3 separate regions of the Homo sapiens genome follow, and all the other regions are linked to region 3. The links come from fine-mapping of genetic effects on gene expression. A gene starts in region 3. Each other region holds a variant in brackets. All regions are shown on one strand. Distances are from middle to middle. Region 1 overlaps TMEM175 (transmembrane protein 175). Region 2 overlaps CTBP1 (C-terminal binding protein 1). Region 3 holds the start of SPON2 (spondin 2).

Region 1 (2,748 bases), 210 kb after region 3:
AGCTGGACAGTGCTGGATGCAGGCCGTCCAGGTGGGTCTGATCTCACTTTGTGCCCCTCGGGCCGTCCCCCTGGCCAGTCCTTAAGAGCAGCAGGCTCCCTGGTGTGTCCCTGCCCCAGCAGACACAGGCTGCCAGTCCCTCCAGCCTCACCTCCCCGCCCTGGGCAGCAGGTGTGGGCAGCGTGTGAGGCTGCCGGGTGGTGGTGACTGGTGACTTCCTTGTGTTCAGGGAAGGGAGAAGGTGCCTTCCCTTGTTTTCTGGCCTTGTTATATACAGATGGCAGCTTGGATCTCAGGTACAGCTCCAGGGGCAGGCAGTGCCCAGCTGGACCTGGTGGCCCTTTCCTAGTGCCTCTGCTTGGGGAGGAGAACCTCTGTCCACGTGGAGGCTAGGAGGTCTCAGGTGCTGCCCTGGCAGCACCAGAGTGTGGGCCGGGCCCGAGTGTCTGCCCCTCGGCCCTCAGGGTGGGGCACTTAGCACCCAGAAGGGACCAAAAGCAGGGCATGGCGGTGCAGAGGAGTTTGGGAGGTGTAAACAGCCCATGCACGTGGAGGAGGAGCTGGCTTTCAGCCCCAGACCCCACGCTAGCACTTTCCACGCTGCTTGCCCGCTGTTGATGTGCAGTTCCCAGTGCCTGTGTGAGCCGACATCTGCTCAGTCCTATCCCTCGTCAGCGTGTGGAGACCCAGCTCCTGCAGCCCTCCTGCTCCCACGCCCCCAGACAGCTTGGTGGAGGGTCCTGCATCTGGGCCAGGCTGGGGTGCACCCAGCCAAAGACAAAGCTGCCTCCACGTGCCCAAGGATTCAGATGGTGCACTGGCCCCGGGAGGAGTCTGACCAAAAATGGAGCCCGCTCTGTGGGGAAGCCCCGACTCCCCCACGAGAAACGGTCCCACGGTGCGGATCTCCCCCTTCCCTTGTGGGGCACAGCTGGCCTGGGCCTCCAATCCTGCGGAGCTTTCCTGGGTGTGGCTTTGACCTCAGAAGTGGCTCTGGTTTGGCCTCAGGAGTGTGGCCTGGCCCAGCCTGCTGCAGCCTCCTGGGGGGCCCTTGATGCCACTAATCCCCCGACCCCCCGCATCTGCCAAACTGCACAGACACACGCATTGTAAGGCCGCTTGTGGCCTCCAGCGTGCACTCTTGTTTACGTCATTGTCATCTTCAAGACCAGTCCTTTGTGATTAGTTTTGCTTCGC[G/A]AGCCCTGGTGTGGACTGTGGTCTGTATGAATCGTGTGTAACTGTGGTGAGGGGCTTGTCCTGTATGTGAGTCTGTACCCAGGTGGGGTCTGTGCCCTGCACACCGGGCCCCTCTGTATTTATCGCTGCCTGAATGCAACAGTAATTTATATCCAGGACAAATACAGTCTGGGCGTCACTATCCTACCATCTCTTCCTCATCTTTGTGTCAACAACCGAGGGGAGGGGAGGGCCTGGCTTGGCACCCCCGACCCCACCAGCTCTGTATAGGCCTCAAAGGGGCTGGGAGTGGGCTGCCCCTCGGGTAGGTGAGCTTGGCAACGTGTCTTCAGGTTGGAGAGAGTGGATAGGCAAATGCCATAAAGCACATTTCCAGTTCCTGTGAAACTCCTCTCTCCGCAAAAAGTGGAGAACAATTTGAGGACTGAAATAAGAGCATGATATTTCACAATGAAAATAAAACCAGGCCACGCAAGAACCACTGCGGCCTGCCCGTGACTTGGCTTCCCCTGCCCAGCATCCTGTCCTCCCTGGTCCATCTCTGGTGAGGACGGCTGGGAGTGGGCTCTGTGGCTGCTAGCAGGGGGCAGGGAGGAGCTGGGACTGTGGGTCGTCCTGGCCCGTGGGGGCTGGCGGGGGGTGTTCGGGCCGGGCGAGGCCCCGCAGGACCCGCAGGGTGGCCAGGGCCAGGCCCACGAGCAGGCGCAGCAACAGGAAGGCGCAGGGCACGGCGATCTGCATGAGGTGGAAGATGCCCACACTGAACCTGCTCAGCAGGCAGGTGGAGGCGAAGGCCAGCAGGCTGGCACAGGGGTACAGCGCCAGCTTGGCGAACATGAGCACATGCTCCCGGCCGCCAAACCACACCGAGGGCTGCAGCGTCTCCGCCTGGTGCAGCAGCGCCGTGGTCCACATGGCCAGCTGGAAGATGCTGGCCAGGAAGATGATGGTGCAGCTGACACGCACGCGCTCCAGCTCATCGCGGGGCTGCCGGGCGAAGGCCGAGGTCTGCTGGTAGGCTAGTGGGAGGCCACCCACGAAGGCCAGCGAGAGCGTGTTCAGCAGCCCCATGGCCCGCGTGGCCTTGCGCACATGCAGGAAGAGTGAGTGGTGGGCGAACCACAGCAGTCCCACTGTGGCGAAGGAGCCGAAGTACGCCAGGAAGCGCGGCCCGGTCGCACTCAGGGCGGCCACGAGGCTGCCGCTGAACCTCTCCTTCACATCCTTGGGGTCCGGGACGTTGTCTTCGCTGAGAACAGTGAATAGATGCATTTGTGCCGGCCTTGCCGTGGCCACACAGGCCCCAGCAGGGTGGCTGAGCGCCTGTCAGGGCTGCCTGGATCTGGCACGTTTTCAGATGAACCATGTGGACTTCCCAGTGTGCTAAATTTCAGAACGCCGTATTTATGTGTATTTGGCACACTGACTGTTACGTGCTGTTCATCTGAAATTCCATAGAAACTGGCACCCTTCTGCTCTGTGCTAATGGGAGCCCAACCCTGCTGGCCCAGAGTGCTGCTGGGGGCCCTGGGCTGCAGCCCTCTCTGGCCG
Region 2 (2,748 bases), 67 kb before region 3:
GGGAGGGCTTCCTGCACACCTGGTGGCAGAGCACAGCTGTGGTCAGGCCTGTCCGTGGCATCTGCTGTCTGTTTCTGTCGGAAAGTGTCTGAGAGGCACGGAGGGCCTCCATGTGGAGGCCGCCAGCACGAGGGTGGAGCCCCACACGGAACCCTGGAAATCTCAGGTGTCCACCCGGCTGGCCCAGGAGCAGGGCCGTGGCCCCTGTGGAGCTGTTCCTTGTGGTTGGTCTGCGCTCTCTGGCCCGGAAGTGCGTGCAGTCGGAAACAGCCTTGGGCTTGGGGGATGCTGCAAAGCCTGCTTCAGCACAGGCCGTGTGACTGTGAAGCCTCCTGGGTGTGTCCCCAAGCCTGCAAGGGTGGGCTGTCCGGGGAACCCTGGCACGGTGGTCAGGGGCAGCTCATGGGTGATGTGAGGAGGCACCTTGGGTGCCTGAGCCTGATGGGGCTTGGTGTCTCCACCTGCTCCCCCCTCCCCACCGTTCAGCTGAGGGACCCGGTTCCCACTCACCCAGCACCCGGGAGTCCCCCACGCGGTTCCGACGAGGGACCCGGTTCCCACTCACCCAGCACCCGGGAGTCCCCCACGCGGTTCCGACGAGGGACCCGGTTCCCACTCACCCAGCACCCGGGAGTCCCCCACGCGGTTCCGACGAGGGACCCGGTTCCCACTCACCCAGCACCCGGGAGTCCCCCACGCGGTTCCGACGAGGGACCCGGTTCCCACTCACCCAGCACCCGGGAGTCCCCCACGCGGTTCCGACGAGGGACCCGGTTCCCACTCACCCAGCACCCGGGAGTCCCCCACGCGGTTCCGACGAGGGACCCGGTTCCCACTCACCCAGCACCCGGGAGTCCCCCCAGGCGGTTCCGACGAGGGACCCGGTCCCACTCACCCAGCACCCGGGAGTGCCCCACACGGTTCCGACGAGGGACCCGGTTCCCACTCACCCAGCACCCGGGAGTCCCCCACGCGGTTCTGACGAGGGACCCGGTTCCCACTCACCCAGCACCCAGGAGTCCCCCCAGGCGGTTCTGACGCAGCCGAGCGGTCTGCAGTGATCCCGTGTGTCCATGCCTTCCTCATCAGAAGTGAAATCCAAGGATACTGAGAGCGGATGTCTATCCACTCACTCAGAAACAGCAACATAAACCTTTCTGCTCATGAGAAGTCATCACCACCACACACAGCGGGGAGGGAGGCCACGTGCAGAGGGAGGCCATGTACAGTGTCACTGGGCGGCCTGTCTATGGTGCTCGTGGGCAGCTCCCGTCCAGAGGGAATGAAGGAACAGGCGAACCAGGACGCGGTTTTGACCGTGCAGACCTCACGTTTGGGATCTGGTTTCCTATCTTGAAGGAAAGTGGGTGGAATGGCCAGTGGCTCCTCCGAGGACGCCAGGGCGCGAGGACCTCACGGGAGGGGCATGGGCCCAGCCGTACTGGGAGCCCTCGGCTTTGGGGTGGTCAGTGGAGACCCATGCCCCGTCCCCTGCAGGCGTGTGCTGCAGGCCCACTGCACCCCTGGGCTGTCCACCAGAGCATTTCTTTTCTCTGCCATGGGTTCCAGGAGGCACTTCCCTGCTTCCTGGATACTGGCAGCTCGGTGGCCTCTGCTCACCTGCAGGCGGATGGGGCAGCGGATGGGGCGGGAGACTGGGCCGAGCGTGCTTGTGGCCGCGGCCACTGGAGAGCCTGCTGGGTCACTCTGCTCCTTGGTTCTGTC[G/C]TGCGCCTCCCCTCCTGCTGGCCGAACGGTCCTGGGTACTGCTTGGTCTCCTGTGGCCGGTCTTTGGAGGAGGAGGGGAGGGACCGGCTGGGCCCTGGCCCCAGCTCCGCCTCTGCCCAGCTGCCGTGGGGCTGACAGTGGCCCCACCTGGTGCTCCCTGCCTGGCACGGGGCGGTCGGGCGGTGCCTGGAAGCTGCCATGCTTCTGTGACGCCTCAGAGCCCTTATTTCTCCAGTTGGCCCCGATGAGGCTTAGTTGCGTCATACGCGAAAGGAATGGGTGTTAATGAGCTTTAATCATCTGGTTCTGGGAAGGTCAGGGGCACAGAGTGGACTTTAACAGGTTTTAACCCTTTTCTTCCTTTGTTCTGTTTCTTTTCTCTTCACATCTATAATTGGAAGTAATGCCAGGCAGAGGGTTGGGGGCGTCCTACGTGAAACACTGGTGACCCCATCAGGGATTCCGGGCAGCCACGCGGTAGCCCAGGCAGGAAAGGGACAACCATGTTCCCAAAGTCCCGTGCTGTCATCTTGTGTCCTCCAGTGTCCTGGGTCCCTCCTGTCCCCCTGCCTCATGGAGCTGCCCTGGGGTCTCGGACGGTCTGGGAGGGTCTCGGGGGGTCTCAGAGGGTCTTGGAGGGCCTAGGAGGGTCGGGAGGTGTCTCGGTGGGTCTGGAAATGTCTTGGGGAGTCTCAGAGGGTCTGGGAGGTTCTCAGAGGGTCTGGAGATTTCTTGGGGGGTCTCGGAGGGTCTTGGAGGGTGTGAGAGGGTCTCAGAGGGTCTGGGAGGATCTCGGAGGGGCCTTGGAGGGTCTCGGAGGGGACTTGGAGGGTCTCGGAGGTCCTGTGCCCAAGGGAGATGGTAGTGGGTGTCCACAGTCTGTGTCCACTTGAGTCAGCGAGCTGAGGCACACACGAGTTGTCTTTCACGTGGATTTTTAATTTACTTTTTACAAATATCACAACATATAGACCAGAAAACCCCCGGCGGTCGGCCCTCGTTGGCCCGTGCACAGTGGGTGGC
Region 3 (2,748 bases):
TTTGAATCTGTGAAACATTAACAGGGTTCCAAACATCAGAGTGTTTTGTCTAAGCTTAAAAGCCCTCTGGGTGATTCCGATGAGCAGAGGCCGGGAAGGATTGAGCAAGACCATTCCCGAGCTCCTTCCTCCGCTCTGTTTCCAGATCCCATGACTGGGGACCTATAAATATTTTCCTGACATGGAGCAGGATCAACTTCAGCATCTGTTAGCTTCATCCCAAAGGCAGGGAAGCCTAGAGCCCCTGGGAGGGCTCTGCACCGCACACACCGCCGGCCTGCAGCCCCAGCCCTGTGCGGGGTCCTGGGGAGGGGGGCCCCCTTTCTGTGGCTCTTCCTGACTCCCTGCGCGTTCCACCCCAGACCCTCAGCCCACTCTGACCTCCCTCCAGGAGGGATGGCTTGCAAATGCCCTCTGGCCACAGTGCAGACCGCTAGGCTGTTCTGTGCAGCTTTAGGCCATGCCAGGAAAGAGACTTAAAGCCAGGGCCCCAAAGGCCAGGGATGCCTGCGCCGGGAGCCAGGAGCTTCCCCAGCCACTTCCAGCATGTAGACTGAAGTCAGGCCACGCACAGGGCTCTCCAGGTCACACCCTGCGCAAGAAGGTGTAGCACGCTGGCTCTAATTTCGAGAAGGTGAAAACAAGAGCCCCTCTGCCCCCACGCCCTGAGCTTTCCCGAAAGGCTTGGGGCAAAGAACTCCCCTCAGTGGCACCTAGGGAGGCACCAGGAAGGCGCTTGTTGGAACGGGAGAGAAACGGGGAGAGGGAGGAGGACAGGGGGGAGGGGAGGAGGGGAGGGGAGGAGGGGAGGGGAGGAGGGGAGGGGAGGGGAAGGGAGGGGACAGGGAGGGGAGGGGAGGGATAGGACAGACAGACAAAGAAAGGGGTGCGGCAGCACTGCCAGGGGAAGAGGGTGATCCGACCCGGGGAAGGTCGCTGGGCAGGGCGAGTTGGGAAAGCGGCAGCCCCCGCCGCCCCCGCAGCCCCTTCTCCTCCTTTCTCCCACGTCCTATCTGCCTCTCGCTGGAGGCCAGGCCGTGCAGCATCGAAGACAGGAGGAACTGGAGCCTCATTGGCCGGCCCGGGGCGCCGGCCTCGGGCTTAAATAGGAGCTCCGGGCTCTGGCTGGGACCCGACCGCTGCCGGCCGCGCTCCCGCTGCTCCTGCCGGGTGAGTACTGCGTGCCCCCGGGACACCCAGAGAGGGCCCGGGCCTCCTGCACTTTCCCCGCGGCCCAGAACCTTGTGGCACCTCCAGAGGGACCCCCAGGACTGGCTGCGACCGAGCTTTAAGGGTCTAGTCCCGGGGGCAGCCAGTCGGCCAAGGCCCCGGGTCCCTGCGACGGCGAAGGCATCCCGGAGGCCGCACCCAGACCGGCCCGGCAAGCTGCAGGGACTCGGACTGAAAACCTGCCCGTTACCCCTGGTCGCTCGCAGGCGCACGGGCGATCTAACCCCGCGCCGTCCATTCCGCTGATGGGGGTCTCGGAAGCACCGCAGGAGAGCTTTGCGGAGCAGGGAGGGGGTCGCGGGTGCTCGGGGCCGTCCTCAGAGCCCAAAGTGCCGCAGCCCTCTCGGCTTTCCACCCCGAGGCTGCCACGACGGTGCCAGCGCGCGGCTGCTCCCCTCTGTGCTCCCAGGTGATGGAAAACCCCAGCCCGGCCGCCGCCCTGGGCAAGGCCCTCTGCGCTCTCCTCCTGGCCACTCTCGGCGCCGCCGGCCAGCCTCTTGGGGGAGAGTCCATCTGTTCCGCCAGAGCCCTGGCCAAATACAGCATCACCTTCACGGGCAAGTGGAGCCAGACGGCCTTCCCCAAGCAGTACCCCCTGTTCCGCCCCCCTGCGCAGTGGTCTTCGCTGCTGGGTAAGTACAGCCCCCTCCTCGCCTCCTGCTCCACCAGGAGGGCTGCGGCGCCGGAGCCCCCCGCACAGCTGCACGGCGGCGCTTCCCAGTCTGGGGCGTGCTGACGTCGGGAGACTCTAACACCAGAATGTTTGCCGAGCGCCTGCGGTGTGCGGTTCCGGGGATGCGGTGGGGGCAGGGGGCGCTCACGGGGAGGGCGCAGGTGGGTCGCGGCAGGGGCAGCCACAGGGTGTCACGGTCCGACGTGACTGGGGGCCATGGTTCCCTGCGGGCGGCGGGGAGGGATTTCCTGGGGCGCCCCCTGGAATCCAAGCCCGACCGCAGTGTCTGACCATGGTCCGCGGCGCGGCCGGGTGGTCCTGCAGGGGCCGCGCATAGCTCCGACTACAGCATGTGGAGGAAGAACCAGTACGTCAGTAACGGGCTGCGCGACTTTGCGGAGCGCGGCGAGGCCTGGGCGCTGATGAAGGAGATCGAGGCGGCGGGGGAGGCGCTGCAGAGCGTGCACGCGGTGTTTTCGGCGCCCGCCGTCCCCAGCGGCACCGGGCAGACGTCGGCGGAGCTGGAGGTGCAGCGCAGGCACTCGCTGGTGAGCGCGGGGCCGGCCGGGGGCGGGGTCCGGGGGGCCGGGGCCAGGCGCGCTGAGCCGCTGTCGCCGCAGGTCTCGTTTGTGGTGCGCATCGTGCCCAGCCCCGACTGGTTCGTGGGCGTGGACAGCCTGGACCTGTGCGACGGGGACCGTTGGCGGGAACAGGCGGCGCTGGACCTGTACCCCTACGACGCCGGGACGGACAGCGGCTTCACCTTCTCCTCCCCCAACTTCGCCACCATCCCGCAGGACACGGTGACCGAGGTGAGTGGGCACCCCGCGTGCGCAAGGGCCGCT

The links. PIP is the estimated chance that this variant, and not a neighbour inherited with it, causes the effect.
Region 1: its variant is the best candidate, but not a certain one, in a credible set for the expression of SPON2 in whole blood (TOPMed, PIP 0.81).
Region 2: its variant is the best candidate, but not a certain one, in a credible set for the expression of SPON2 in lung (TOPMed, PIP 0.88).

What each region holds. Positions count from the first base shown.
Region 1 is chr4:957,522-960,269 of GRCh38, reverse strand. TMEM175 (transmembrane protein 175) reads right to left here. Exons shown (of 11, transcript NM_032326.4): 11 at 1,614-2,446. The coding sequence ends at 1,774. DGKQ (diacylglycerol kinase theta) reads left to right here. Exons shown (of 23, transcript NM_001347.4): 23 at 1-1,383. Among named protein-coding and RNA genes, the nearest start is that of DGKQ, 15 kb to the left of the region's middle. The variant G/A (reference allele first, on the strand shown) is at 1,198.
Region 2 is chr4:1,238,403-1,241,150 of GRCh38, reverse strand. All of the region lies in intron 2 of CTBP1 (C-terminal binding protein 1), which reads left to right. Among named protein-coding and RNA genes, the nearest start is that of CTBP1, 9.4 kb to the left of the region's middle. RefSeq lists an enhancer at 675-1,175. The variant G/C (reference allele first, on the strand shown) is at 1,726.
Region 3 is chr4:1,170,966-1,173,713 of GRCh38, reverse strand. SPON2 (spondin 2) reads left to right here and starts at 1,131. Exons shown (of 6, transcript NM_012445.4): 1 at 1,131-1,170; 2 at 1,640-1,862; 3 at 2,228-2,451; 4 at 2,524-2,715. The coding sequence starts at 1,643. All of the region lies in intron 1 of LOC124900647 (nascent polypeptide-associated complex subunit alpha, muscle-specific form-like), which reads right to left. RefSeq lists enhancers at 518-1,235, 1,236-1,951.